Linked DNA regions of Homo sapiens. The protein of the gene in region 1 purifies or fractionates together with the protein of each later gene. This does not show direct contact. Each region holds a gene or a part of one and is shown in the gene's direction. Other genes may lie near its edges.

Region 1 (5,428 bases):
CCCTATCCCTGCGCTGGGCTGGGCTGGCCTGGGCTGGGCTGGGGGCCCCTGCCCTTATCCAGGCCCCCTGGGCGGGAGCCCTCTCCCAGTGGCAGTGCCCCTGGACAGCTGGAGGGCGCTTCCTGGAACACGCCGCTGGCCCCACAGGTGCGCGCTGGCGAGCTGGAACCGTTGCTGGTGGCGGCCGGAGGCGGCGGTCGGGCCTACCTGAGGCCGCGGGACCGAGGCCGGACTCAGGCCTCCCCCGAGAAACTGGAGAACCGCTCGGAGGCGCCCGGGAGCGGCGGGAGAGGCGGGGCGGCAGGTGAGGGCGCGGGCCGCGGGGAGAGGCGGGCGTGCTCCCCGTGTGGCTGCCAACCTTCCTGCTGTCGCTCTGCAGGTGGTGGGGGCGGCTGGACGTCGCGGGCTCCCTCTCCGCAGGCCGGCCGCTCACTGCAGGAGGGGGCGGAGGGCGGCCAGGGCTGCTCCGAGGCTTGGGCGACCCTTGGCTGGGCCGCGGCCGGCGGCTTCGGGGGCGGCGGCGGGGCCTGCACTGCGGGCGGAGGCGGCGGCGGCTACAGGGGTAGGTGCACCGTTGGAGAGGGCAGCTGAGCAGGCCCGAGGGTGAGGTGATGTTAGAACCTAAGTACAGGCCGGAGCCCTCGGGAGGATAGGTGTGGGAGAGGCATTAAGCCCTGCTCAGCAGCTCCAAACAAAAAGCAGGAGCTCTTAGAAAAGGAGGTCAAATACACTGCAAATCAGCATGCAGACAGGACTCCCTAGATTTCCGTTTAATCCAGGATCTTTCCCATCACAGCAGGTCCCTGCCTTGTTCTGCAGCAGTCTTCAGAACTTAGAGCTGGCCGAGTGAGCAAGCTGAGCAAAGGGGCAGAAAGGCAGGATTGGGTTAAGTCAGTGGTTCTCAAAGTGTGGTCCAGGAACAGGTAATATCCCCACAACCTAAGTTGTTCGAAATGCACATTATCAGCTGGGCCTGGTGGCTCACGCCTGTAATTCTAGCACTCTGGGAGGCCAAGGCAGGTGGATCACCTGAGGTCACCAGTTCGAGACCAGTCTGGCCAACCTGTGAAACCCTGTCTGTACTAAAAATACAAAAATTAGCCGGGCGTGGTGGCGGGAGCCTGTAATCCCAGCTACTCTGGAGGCTGAGGCAGGAGAATTGCTTGAACCTGGGAGGCGGAGGTTGCAGTGAGCCGAGATCACTCCATTGCACTTCAGCCTGGGCGACAAGAGGGAAATTCTGTCTCAAAGATTAAAAAAAAAACAATGGAAATTATCCTGGGAGTTGGGGGAAGGTTGGGGAGATGCTGGTCAAAACAATGCAAAATGGCAGTTAAATAGGAGGAATACCTTCCAGAATCTACTGTACTACATGGTGACTGTAGTTAATGACGATGTATTCTTGAAAATCGCTAAGAGAGGCGGGGCGCGGTGGCTCACGCCTGTAATCTCAACACTTTGGGCGGCGGAGGCGGGTGGATCTTGAGGTCAGGAGTTTGAGGCCAGCCTGGCCAATATGGTGAAACCCCCATCTGTACTAAAAATACAAAAATTAGCCGGGCGTGGTGGCATATGCCTGTAGTCCCAGCTACTCGGGAAGCTGAGACAGGAAAATCGCTTGAACCCGGGAGGCGGAGGTTGCAGTGAGCCAAGATCGTGCCACTGCACTCCAGCCTGGGTGACAGAGCAAGACTCTGTCTCAAAAAAAAAGAAAAGAAAATTGGTAAGAGCGTAGATTATAGGTGTTCTTACCACAGAAAATAAGCATGTGAGGTGGTGTATATATTGGTTTGCATTAGCCATTGCACAGTGTGTACATATTTCAAAACATCATGCTGTATACAATAAATATATGAATTTTTTTTTTAGATGGAGTCTGGCTCTGTTGCCCAGGCTGGAGTGCAGTAGTACAAATCTCAGCTCACTGCAACCTCCGCCTCCCGGGTTCAAGCAATTCTCCTGCCTCAGCCTCCTGAGTAGCTGGGATTATAGGCATGCGCCACCATGCCCGGCTAATTTTTGTATTTTTAGTAGAGATGGGGTTTCACCATGTTGGTCAGGCTAGTCTCGGACTCCTGACCTCGTAATCCGCCCATGTCGGCCTCCCAAAGTGCTGGGATTACAGGCGTGAGCCACCACACCTGGCCCTGAATTTTTATTTTTAATTAAAAATTAATTTTTAAAAAGAAATGCGAATTCTCAGCCCTTCTCTAACATACTGAATCAGAAACTGTAAGGGAGAGTCCCAGTCATCTGTGTTTTGATCAAATAACTAGTGTAAATGCCTTTGTGCCTGTCTGGGCTGTACTGCTCATACATACACACATGATCTACATTCTCACAGAAAGGGACTGTGAGGACATGGGACAGGAGGGGCTCAGGCAGGCAGGAGGCATCCCAGCCAGCCTCAGCGAGGCCTTCAGGCTCCAGCTGATTACCCCCTCCTCACCTCCTTCACTCCCACTTGTGAACAGACAGCATTTGCATCATGATGCTGGAGAAGAGAGGGCCACACTGGGATTTCCACCGGGAGATTCCAGCTTCTCCCCCATCCCCCATTTTTGTAGTCAAACTCTCCATCACTCTCCACTTCCAGGGGGCGACGCTTCAGAGACTGACAACCTCTGGGCTGATGGGGAAGATGGAGTATCCTTCATACACCCCAGCAGCGAGCTCTTCCTGCAGCCTCTGGCAGGTATTGGCCCCAACCCCACCTCTGAGCCTGGCCTGGACTTCTTCCGCAGTCCCTGAGCCCACTCCTGCACTGCACTGAAGAGCCACCTGCACTGTGAATAACCTTGCATAGCACAGGATTCTTGCATAGCATAGGGTCATTTGAAAAGTGGGCTGTCATCATGCCATTGCACTCCAGCCTGGGCGACAAGAGCAAAACTCTGTCTTAAAAAAAAGGAAAGTGGGCTGCCAGTCGTGCTGGATGGCAATGCAGGGCATGCTGCGTGCTTTTCAAGTACCCCCTTGCTATGAATTCGCTTCAAATACCTGGGAGTGTGCAGGCTTGACAGAAGTCCCCCAGCTTCTCTCACCACCCTTGTAAGCTTGGTGCTGCTCTTTGCTCTAAAGTCCTGGGCTAGAATTAACCATGTGGCTGGAAAAGGCATGTATTTATTTATTTATTTATTTATTTATTTATTTATTTATTTTTATTTTTGAGACAGAGTCTCGCTCTGTCACCCAGGCTGGAGTGCAGTGGTGCGATCTTGGGTCACTGCAACCTCCGCCTCCCGGGTTCAAGTGATTCTGCAGCCTCAGTGCTGGAGTAGCTGGGATTGCAGGCGTGCGCCACCACACCCGGCTAATTTTGTATTTTTAGTAGAGGCGGGGTTGGCCAGGCTGGTCTTGAACTTCTGACCTCCGGTGATCCGCTCACCACGGCCTCCCAAAGTGCAATGATTATAGGCGTGTGCCACTGTACCCAGCCAAAGGCATGTATTTACTATATCCCAGCCCTACCACACCATATCATATCAGTTCTTTTACTCACAGTCACCGAGAACCACGGAGAGGTAGAGATCCGAAGGCACCTCAACTGCAGTCACTGCCCTTTGAGAGACTGCCAATGGCAGGCAGAGCTCCAGCTGGCTGAATGCCTGTGCCCAGAAGGCATGGAGCTAGCTGTGGATAACGTCACCTGCATGGGTATGTCCTACCTTTGCCCAAGGTCTGGACTCCTGGGGTCACAGACTGGGAGGAGCAGTAGGCCACTGGGAAAGATGGTATAGAGATTTGCTGTGTGCCAGGCCCTGTGGTGGGTGCTGGGCAGGGGATTGGAGATTCATCGGTGCACAGTGCCTTTCAGAGGCCTGTCGTCCAGTGTGGGAGGATGTTTAGATATAGCTATGTAAATGTATATCTCAAGTGACGATTGTTGTGGGAGGTATAAAGTGCTTTAGGGGTGTTCAAGAGGGAGAGGTTGCTTTTGCCCAGGATAATGGGGGAAGGCATCATGGAAAAATTAACACTTGAGCTGAGTCTTGAAGCGTGGGTAAAACTTGAGGGTAAAGGAACAGAGAAGACCTTCCCACTGGAGGTGTCTCTCTTTCTCCCTAGACCTGCACAAGCCCCCAGGCCCTCTGGTTCTGATGGTGGCTGTGGTGGCAACCTCAACACTGAGCCTCCTTATGGTGTGTGGGGTCCTGATTCTGGGTACGAAGCGTCTAGCAGGCACAGTTGATTCAAGGCTGCTCCTCTCCAGTGAGCTGGGATGGGTTTCTGCGGGGTCCCGGGGCTGACTTCAAGACCACTCACCGCAGCAGAGCCGTGGTAGACTCCTCTGGGATTCTAAGATAGGAAGGAGCTGGGGAGGCCTGGGGAAAACGTTTACCTTAATGAGCATCTGGAGGGGTGTCCTGGGCAGGTGGGGGAGGGAGAGTTGATGGGCAGGTGGAGGGTGTGCCGTTATTCTTCCCACCCCCAGTGAAGCAGAAGAAGTGGCAGGGCCTGCAGGAGATGAGGCTGCCGAGCCCTGAGCTTGAGCTGAGCAAGCTTCGAACCTCTGCCATCAGGACAGCCCCCAATCCCTATTATTGCCAGGTGGGGCTTGGCCCGGCCCAGTCCTGGCCTCTGCCACCAGGTGTCACCGAGGTTTCCCCAGCCAATGTTACTCTGCTCAGGTAAGTCTTCTGCCTCCTTCTGAGAACCTATGCACTCTGAATCCCCACCTCTGATTCTCTCCCTGCTGTAGTGAATTATAAGTCCCAGAAAAAATCTGGCCCACATCCCTTGTGTAAGGGAGAGGGAGGCCCTGAGAAGCTCCAGAAGGGGAAGTAACTTGCTCAATGTCACCTCTCCGTCCCAGTTCTTAGAATATGATCTCTCAGCTGGGCGTGGTGGCTCACACCTGTAATCCCAGAACTTTGGGAGGTCGAGGCAGGCAGGTCACCTGAGGTCGGGAGTTCGAGACCAGCCTGACCAACATGGAGAAACCCCATCTCTACTAAAAATACAAAATTAGCTGGGCATGGTGGCGCATGCCTGTAATCCCAGCTACGTGGGAGGCTGAGGCAGAAGAATCACTTGAACCTGGGAGGCGGAGGTTGTGGTGAGCCGAGATTGCGCCATTGCACTCCAGCCAGGGCGACAGAGTGAGACTCTGTCTCAATAAAAAAAAAATATGATCTGGCGCCTGTAATCTCAGCACTTTGGGAGGCCAAGGCAGGTGGATCACCTGAGGTCAGGGGTTCGAGACCAGCCTGGCCAACATGGTGAAACCCTGTGTCTACTAAAAACACAAAAAATAGCTGGGCGTTGTGGCGCTTGCCTGTAGTCCCAGCTACTCGGGAGACTGAGGCAGGAGAATCACTTGAACCCGAGAGGCAGAGGTTGCAGTGAGCCGAGATCGCGCTATTGCACTCCAGCCTGCATGACAGAGTGAGACTTCGTTTAAAAAAGAAAAAAAATCATGACTCTT
Region 2 (3,500 bases), on another chromosome or scaffold:
CAAAGTGCTGGGATTACAGGCGTGAACCACTGTGCCCAGCCAAAAAAAAATCTTGACTTAATGGTATCAGATGTTTATTATGCATATTAACCTGTGATAGGTACTGTGGCATATATGGGAACAGTTGAATTCTTTTATACCATACTAAGTTATTGTCAGGTAAGAAAGGGACATGATTAGAAAATTAGAATTACACTAATGTGTATTCCTCTTAACTTCTAACTCTTAGAATTGAACACTAGTGCTCCACTCGATGTCTTGTCCAAACGATATCCCAGCAGACTTGTCCAAAAGATATCCACATATGAGCAGGACACTGCTTTCCGTGAGGAATTTGGTGTTGTATCATACGTGAGACTCATGGATATTAAAGTTCTTGTAATGTGTAGCATTTTTAACTCATAGAATAGTACCTTGTACTTCAGGGTTTTGTTTGCATTATTGGAACAATCAGAAGTTTTGGTTATATAAGGGAAAATAACCAAAACGGAGAATTTTTGCAAGGTAATGAATTTGAAATTTTTCTAAATTTCTGCCCCTTCACATATTAGTTTAAAAACTATCCATGTATGAAAGACTCCATTAATGATTAGGTACTGTTACAATTGTTGTAGATGAAATATGGATCTATTATAGCTGGTTCTGTTATGCTTTCCTTTGCTTCCTTTACTTCAGCCTTGGCAGCCTCCTTGATCTTCCTCATACACACTAAGCACTCTCCCTCCTCAGGTCTTTGGATTTACTGTTGCATAGGTCTGTAGTAGTACTGTTTGCTTACTTGCCTTGCTCACTTTCTCATTCGAACATCATCTAAACAGAGAGACCTTCCATGACCATCCTATATAAAATATTACTACCACTTCCTATTATCACTAAATATCATTATTATGCTTTTGTATTCATTTTAGGACATATCACTCTTAGCATCTTTTTTTTGTGTGTGTGTGTGTGATGTGTGTTCAGTGCCTCTCATTAGAGCAAAGATGGTTTTGTTTTGTCCATTGCTACATTCCCATTGCCTAGAGTATAGTACCTGGAAAATAGTACGTACTCTACAAATATTTGAATGAATGAATGAATGAATGAATGAATGAATGTTTAATCCAGCACTCATTCAGTTGGTAGAAGATATAAAATTAAACTGTAACTTAAAAATGGAGTATACAATTTTTTTTTTTTTGAGACGGAGTTTTGCTCTGTTGCCCAGGCTGGAGCGCAGTGGCACATCTCGGCTCACTGCAACCTCCCCTTCCCGGGTTCATACAATTCTCCTGCCTCAGCCTCCTGAGTAGCTGAGATTACAGGTGTGCGCCACCATGCCCAGGTAATTTTTTTTGTATTTTTAGTAGAGATGGGGTTTCACCATGTTGGCCAGGCTGGTCTCAAACTCCTGACCTCAAATGATCCACATCCCTCAGCTTCCCAAAGTGCTGGGATTACATGCGTGAGCCACCGCACCCAGCTTGGACTATATACAATTTATAGTTTTTTTTTTATCAGAATAATTGTATTTATAGTAGTTGAGTATCTACTATGTGCCAAGCCTTGGGTGTGATAGCAGTGAACAAGACAGACAAAGTTCTTGCGGTCATAGAACTAACAGTTTTGTTTTCTGCAGTAGAGAAACTAGTTTAACTTTTTACAGTTACTTATGCACAGATTTTTTTTTTTTTTTTTTTTTTGAGACAGAGTCTCGTTCTGTCACCCAGGCTGGAGTGCAGAGACATGATCTTGTCTCACTGCAACCTCTGCCTCCTGGGTTCAGGTGATTCTCTTGCCTCAGCCACCAGAATAGCTGGGACTACAGGCATGTGCTGCCACGCCTGGCTCATTTTTTTTTTTTTTTTTTGTATTTTCAGTAGAGACGGGGTTTTGCCATGTTGGCCAGGCTGGTCTTGAACTCATGAGCTCAAGTGATCTACCTGCTGCAGTCTCCCAAAGTGCTGGGATTACAGGCATGTGCAACCATGCCTGGCCATTTATGCTCAGATTTCTTTAAACAAACAAAAAGCAAATCACGAGCCCCCCCGCACCTTCATTTGATTCAACTATCCTTTCCAGCTGCGATCTTAGTTTTTTATGTGTTTTATGTTAAGTTTTTCAAATAATGGTCTTCAGCAATTGGCTTCATTTTCTTACTAAGCATTAGTATTCCTTACAGCTTTTTCTTCCATAATTTAGCTAAAATATTGCTCTCTCAGTTATCACAGGTTTTTCTTTTGCCATATTCAAAGGTCTGTTCTTAGTTTTCTCTGTTTCTTGCAACTTCTTTCAGGAGGTAATGTATGCAGTCCTAACTCACCTCTTTTCTAACTATTTCTTCTTTGTTTTCCTTGATTAAAAAAAGAAAAGAGAAGGTATTTTAGGAGGAAATACTTGATCGTATAGTATAGGTTATGTTCATTATGGAAATTGAATAGAGAATTAAAGGAAAAGAAAGTGAAAGGAAGAAAGAAAATGAAGAAAGAAGAGCCTAAAAACACAGAGAAAAGTGAAAGTGGAGAAAGAGGAAAGCAGTTAAATAGCAGTAAGGGATAGCAAAGCCCTAGAAATAGCAGTGATGATTTAACATTTGCCTGTATTGAAAAGCAGAGTAGAATAGTGGTTAGTATAGATCTCTCTTTGTCTTGTCTTTGTCAGTTACTGTGACCTTGAGCAAACTTTTTAACATTTTGTGCCTTATTTATTCATCTACAAAATGAGTTTCATTATAACATCCATCCCATACTGTTTTTGTGATAATGTATGAAGCACAAGCTGGGTACATAACATATGATGTGTGGGCCACTATGATTATCATTAGCTCCCTATCATTCCTAAAGTAGCTATTCATTCTCCACAATTACTTTAGGAGAAGCTATTCTTTTTCATGTATTTATATATCACCTTCATAACTTATTTGTTGAAAAAGCAGATAATTATTGGCATGCCTACCTATGTGCCAGCTGACTACACTTAGTACTGAGGATTGAAAAATAAACTGAAAAGACATTTTCTGTCTTTAAGAAGATAAACACTGAGGAGAGAGAGATGAGAGCAAACTGCTGCACTAAAATGCAATAAGTTTATTGGTAGAAAATGTACAAAGTATTGTAGAGGAATGAGGGACTGCTTTGTAGAATGAGATTATATAAAGAAGACTGCAGTTGAGAGGTTAAGCATGAATAGGCATTTGCTTTCCTTACATGAATCAGGCAGAGGAAATGGCCATTTTACATATACAAAAGTATGAGAGAGCCAGTAGTGTTCAAGAAATTATAAGCAGCTTTCTATCATTTGGTATATAAAATGTTATCAGATACTGGTGGTCAATGGGATTGGACAGTGATAGACAGTGGGCTAGGTCACAGCAGGCTTTGTGTGCTATACCATGGAGATTAGATTTTATCCTCTTTGCAAATAGGAGCCATTGAAAACTTTAGCTCAGAAGAATGATGTAAGATTTGCTTATCAGAATGAGTATTGTGAGAACTGTATAAGTGGTAGGGTAGCCATATGAG
Region 3 (2,237 bases), on another chromosome or scaffold:
AAATTTAGTAGCCTTAATAAACATTTATTAGCTCCTGAGTGAGTGGCTTGGCAGTTTGGGCTGTGTTCAGTGTGGTGGTTCTTATCTCATCTGGGCCCTCGTGTGGCTGAAGTGAGCTGGCAGATCAGCTGGGGACTGGCTGGTCTCAGATGGCCTCGCCCGCCTGTCAGGTGGTTGGCTGGGCAACTGGGCCACACGTTCCAGCATCTAGCAGGCTGACCCAGGATTCTAGACATCATGGCTGAGTTCCAAAAACCGCAAGAGAAGACAAGCCCAGTATGCGAGTGCTCTTGAGGATATTGCTATGACGTATCTTTTGGCCAAAGTAAGTCACATGGCTAAGCCCAAATTCTTCTTAACAGGAGGAGCTTCAAAATATGGCCATATTTAAAAAATCTACCTCAGGACTCATTTCACTTGCCAACTCAGAACTTTTAGTAGCAGCTGCCTGGAGTGCCTTTTGAGGATCTGCAGCAATTTTCAGACTGTTTGGAAATACTGACATGATAGTTTGGCAGTTTCTCTTATGAGCATGGAATTCAAGTGTGGGCACGTGAGCGTCAGGTATTTGCCATCCCTGGCCAGGTTGACCCGTAAGGTCATAACCTGCCCCATAGGATGTTATATGCAGTAGGCCTGTCTGACAAGACCACAGAAATAGAGAAGGCAAAGCAGAGCAAAAGATTCTGAGCCAGGCATCCTTGGTTTTCATCCCAACCAGATCATTGATTGATTGAGGTTTTAGGCAAATCAAAATCCCTCCACCAGTAGCCAGATTCTTCATAATAAACTTCCTCCATAACAGTAAACCATTTCCTGAACACCTGCTGTTAAAAAGCACATTTTACATTTACTTAATCTCCACAACCACCCTCAGTAGGTGTAGTAAGGACTTCTGGTTACAAGTTACAGAAACTGAATTCAGTCCTGCTTAGTGGGAGGAAGTTTATTGGCTCACAAATTGTAAAGTCCAGGGATCTTCAGACATGGGGACTTGGGTTCAAAAGCTGCCATCGAGAATCCGGTTAGCCAGGCATGGTGACACGTGCCTGTAGTCCCCGCTACTTGGGGGACTACAGTGGGAGATCATTTGCACCTAGGAGGTTAATGCTGCGGTGAGCCATGATCCTGCCGCTGCACTCCAGCCTGGGTGACAAAGCGAGACCCCAACTCAAGGGGAAAAAATCTGGTTTTCGGGCAGGTTCCAAGAAGTGGTAGAGCATGGCCATAGGGCCTGTGAGAATAGAGGGACAGAGGGGAGAATCCCCAAAAGGAGAGCAAGGCTTGGCTAACAAAAACAGGCATCCACTGTGTGGTTATGTCTATTCTATAGATTTTGTAGATGAGGTTTAAAAGCATGGCCCCAAGTAAAGGTGGCATCTCTATCCTATCCTCGCCTTTATCTAAACTCTGTGACCGATCAATAGCATATGATGGTGGTGGTGCTCTGCCAGTCTCCCAGTCCCAGACTGAAGCACTAGCAGCTTCCACTTATTATCTCTTGGGACTCTAGCTCTTGGGACCCAACCACCATGCTGTGAAGCAGCCCAGGCCACACAGAGAGGCCACGTGTACATGTTCAGCTGACAGCAGTATCAAATGTCAGACATGAGAGAGGAAGGCTTCAAGATGACTCCAGCCCAGCCACCGTCTGAGAACAAAGTAAGAACTGCCTCACTGATGCCATTCAAAGCCCAGCACCATGAGAGATAATAAAACGTTGTTTGAAGATGCTAACTTTTGGAGTGATTTGTTGTATCAGTAGATAACCAGGACACAGGCCCACAGAGGTTCAGTAGCTTGCTGTGCTTCTCAGGGGGCTAGGTTAAGAGTATAGGTTTTGTTGCTGGGCGCGGTGGCTCACGCCTGTAATCCCAACACTTTGGGAGGCCAAGGCGGGCAGATCACGAGGTCAGGAGACCGAGACCATCCTGGCTAACACGGCGAAACCCCGTCTCTACTAAAAATACAAAAAAATTAGCCGGGTGTGGTGGCGGGCGCTTGTAGTCCCAGCTACTTGGGAGGCTGAGGCAGGAGAATGGTGTGAAGCTGGGAGGTGGAGCTTGCAGTGAGCCAAGATCGCGCCACTGCACTCCAGCCTGGGCGACAGAGCAAGACTCCGTCTCTTGCTGACTCTTACCCATATGCCTGCATCTGTCTACCCTCTTTTCTATGTACTTGCTCCCTGGATGACTTCATCCGTGGCTTCAGACTCCACTCATGGCTCCATAATCTTC
Region 4 (3,500 bases), on another chromosome or scaffold:
ATTTGAGATCAGCTGTTTTTGTGAGAATGCTAATGTGGCATTCCTGATTAGTCTGTATGTTTGTTTGTTTGATTTTTAATTCTGGGTGCAGAGGAACACAGATTATCAAATCCAGTTGGTATTTCTTATGCCACTATAGTACAACTTGAAATCCCTTTTAAGTAGAGGAAACAGTGTTGTATTCATTTCCTATTGCTGTTATAACAAATTACTACATATTTGAGTAGCTTAAAGCAACACAGATATATTATCTTAGAGTTCTGGAGGTCAGAAGTCTAGAACAAGTGGGCCTTCCTTCTGGAGGCTCTAGGGCAGAGCCCCTTTCCCTGCCCTTTCCAGCTGCTAGGGGCTGCAGCTCACAGCCCAGCATCACTCCAACCTCTGCTTGTTCCCACATCTGTTTCTCTGGCTCTGCCTCTTCTGCCTCCTTCCATCTCTTATAGGGAGCCTTGTGATGACATTGGGCCAACCAAATATTCCAGGATCATGCCTGCATCTCTCAAGATCCTTAACTTAATCATATCAGCAAAGTCCCTGCACCATGTGAGGTAACATATTCACAGTAGTAGGTGCTCAATAAATAGATACTAAAGATAGCAGCATTTTTTATTAGACCTTCTCACAGCTTCTGGGGATTAGAATGAGACATCTTTGGCAGCCATTGTTCTCCCCATCATGGGTAACATGCAGTGGGCGCTTCCAGTGCCAGGATTTCGGTGGGTTTAACTGGAGTGTGCAGATAAGTAGTTGGCGTCAAGAACTCCTGCTGCTTCCCTTGCTGGAAAGATGGGGTGGCTTTGAATGACATCCCAGAATCTGATTCTTCCGTCTGCGGAATGTGCATAGGATGTCTGAATCACACTATTGTCGTGAGAAATGAGGTAGAATATTCTCTGATGTGGCAAGCTTAGGCCAGCATCTAGCCCAATTCCTTGTATATAATGGAAATTCTTAAGATGTTAGGGTTCCCCTCTCCCTCTCTCTCCTTTTTCCTCGCCTACAAAGGAAGACATCTTTTGTGAGGCCTCCACAGCATTCTTGATCACTTGTACTTAGAGTAACCTTAAGGTTATTGTAGTATAGAACTTCATAGTGTAAAGGTCAAGTTTTTATTTAAAGGAAAAAAGTGGGGGGGCCTCCAAGATATCATTTCTCTGCAGACATTAATTGGTGTCATACTTCAAGAAAAATGGCTAGAAAAGAGTGGTGAGTGGAAAGCTGGCCAGTGCCCTGGAGGCTGCTCCTGCTTTGAGTTCTCCCGGACTTGTTTCTGCTGCCAGCATCTGCCATGCAACCTGGGCAAGTTATTTCCCCTCTGGACCTCAGCTTCCGCATAATAAGCGCATTGGATAAATCATTTTTCAGACTATCCAGTTCTTATACATGATAATACTTATATTTTATAGAGTAACCATATTTTTGGCTGGGTGCAGGGAATCACACCTGTAATCCCAGCATTTTGGAGGCCAGGGTGGGCAGATCACTTGAGCCCGGGAGTTCGAGACCAGCCTGGGCAATAGAGTGAAACCCTGTCTCTACAACCAGTACAAAAATTTAAAAAAACAGAAACTAGCTGGACATGGTGGCAGACGCCTGTAGTCCTAGCTGCTCGGGAGGCTGAGGTGGGAGGATCACCTGAGCCCAGGACGTCAAGGCTGCAGTGAGCTATGATTGCACCACTGCACTCCAGCCTGGGTGACAGAGTGAGACCCTGTCTCAAAATAAATAAATAAATAATAAAGTAACCAATTCTAAAATGAGACCGTGATGGCGGCAGCTTGCCCTAAAGGTTGCCTTATATTTAACAAATTAGGGATAGTTTGTTATTAGGAACTAGAATTCTATAAAAGCTACATATTAATTTTTGTTTTCATTATTTATGTTAAGCATGAAGGAAAAATAGTGATAGTGAGAATTATAGTTAAAAGGGAAGAGAGATTCCTTGGTATTCAATTTTCTGAGAAAAACCCATATCAGATCTTCACCGGGGAACATCACAGATCACCTAGGCCCGAGGGCAGGCACAGGAGGGTAAAGAAGGGTGCAGGGAAGGAAATGGCTCACGGCCTCATGTACAGCCACAGCCTGGTGTCCGTCCAGCATGAAGTCCACACCCAGAGCCATGCTGAATCCCACGCCCAGCCTTATGCTGGACCTCCTGGATCAGAACCTCTAGAAGGAGGATAGTATTTGTCTTTATAAGAAGCTCTCCAGGTGATTTTGATGTGTTCCATTGGTGCAGAACCATCAGTCTGCACTAGCAGCTTTGCAGGAATAAACGGTTTCCCAAGGAGGGGAGGTTTAACGTGTTGTTCCTCTTGCTACCACCATCATTGCTGTTAAATCCACCTCCTCCCGCTTCACTATCCAGAAATGGAAGTGACCGGCTACCAAGGTGTCTTCCTTTTGGCCAGTCGGGCTACCAATAGATTTACCTCTCATCTTTCAGGATGCCACTCTCTCCTGGTTTTGCACCCACCAGTCACTCCCCAGCCCACTTTGCTGTGCCTTCAGTCCTTTCTGACCTCTTCACACCACAGTCCTTGGATCTCTTTATTTACCTTCACTTCCCTGGTGATCTCATCACATCGCATGACTTTAAATATAATCTCTGTCTGACAACTCCCACGGATAATCTCCAGATTACACTTCTCCCCTGAACTTAGACCTACTTACTCTGCTGCCCGCTGGACATCTCCACTTGCTGCCTCCTGGGTGCCTCACGCTTACTCCGTGCAAATCTGAGCTTCCTGTCTTCTCCCTCGGCCCTCTCCACCTCCAGTTTTTCCAACTAAATACCTCAGGAACCATGCTTTTTCTTTCTCTCACATCCCACATCTAAGATGTCAAGAAATCCTGCTGGCACCATTGAAGAAATACCCAGAATTCCAGTACCTCTTGCCACCTGCGCTGCCCCCCAGCTCTGTCTGGATCTCTGCAGTAACCTTGTCACTGTTCCTCCTGTGTCCGCTCTTATCTCCCCACTGTCTGTTCTCCACACAGCAGCCAGAGAGATCCTTTTAAATTGTGCGTCCGTTCATTTCGGTCCTCTCATCAGAACCTTCCAGTGACTCCCATTTGTTGCAGAGTGAAATGCAAAGGCCTTACAGTGGCTCCATAACCCACATCATCTGACTCCAACCTGAGCCATTACATCTCTTACCTCCTCATCTCCCATCTCCCACTTCCTCACTCCGCCCCAGCTCATGCCTTCTTGCTATTCTTTGAAGACACCAGATGCATTTCTTTTTTTTTTTTTTGAGACGGAGTTTCGCTCTTGTTGCCCAGGCTGGAGTGCAATGGCACGATCTCGGCTCACCGCCATCTCCGCCTCCCAGGTTCAAGCCACTCTCCTGCCTCAGCCTCCCGAGTAGCTGGGATTACATGCATGCACCACCACGCCTGACTAATTTTGTATTTTTAGTAGAGACAGGGTTTCTCCATGTTGAGGCTGGTCTCGAACTCCTGACCTCAGGTGATCCGCCCGCCTCGGCCTTCCA

Evidence for each region. Proteins that work in one complex are often made in the same cells at the same time.
Region 2: the proteins of LTK (region 1) and MRPL1 purify together in Homo sapiens (affinity purification with mass spectrometry; one large-scale study listed by BioGRID and IntAct). This does not show direct contact.
Region 3: the proteins of LTK (region 1) and RALY purify together in Homo sapiens (affinity purification with mass spectrometry; one large-scale study listed by BioGRID and IntAct). This does not show direct contact.
Region 4: the proteins of LTK (region 1) and SFXN1 purify together in Homo sapiens (affinity purification with mass spectrometry; one large-scale study listed by BioGRID and IntAct). This does not show direct contact.

The regions. Positions count from the first base shown.
Region 1 is NC_000015.10:41,506,298-41,511,725, reverse strand, and holds part of LTK (leukocyte tyrosine kinase receptor isoform 1 precursor), read left to right. Parts: intron 1-147; coding exon 148-304; intron 305-317; exon of another isoform or gene 318-379; coding exon 380-562; intron 563-2,596; coding exon 2,597-2,695; intron 2,696-3,489; coding exon of another isoform or gene 3,490-3,504; coding exon 3,505-3,657; intron 3,658-4,068; coding exon 4,069-4,164; coding exon of another isoform or gene 4,165-4,212; intron 4,213-4,262; exon of another isoform or gene 4,263-4,281; intron 4,282-4,435; coding exon 4,436-4,631; intron 4,632-5,428. UniProt on the Homo sapiens protein: Receptor with a tyrosine-protein kinase activity. Following activation by ALKAL1 or ALKAL2 ligands at the cell surface, transduces an extracellular signal into an intracellular response.
Region 2 is NC_000004.12:77,897,330-77,900,829, forward strand, and holds part of MRPL1 (large ribosomal subunit protein uL1m precursor), read left to right. Parts: intron 1-3,500.
Region 3 is NC_000020.11:34,083,148-34,085,384, forward strand, and holds the end of RALY (RNA-binding protein Raly), read left to right. Parts: 3' UTR 1-1,737; downstream 1,738-2,237. UniProt on the Homo sapiens protein: RNA-binding protein that acts as a transcriptional cofactor for cholesterol biosynthetic genes in the liver. Binds the lipid-responsive non-coding RNA LeXis and is required for LeXis-mediated effect on cholesterogenesis.
Region 4 is NC_000005.10:175,485,060-175,488,559, forward strand, and holds part of SFXN1 (sideroflexin-1), read left to right. Parts: intron 1-3,500. UniProt on the Homo sapiens protein: Amino acid transporter importing serine, an essential substrate of the mitochondrial branch of the one-carbon pathway, into mitochondria.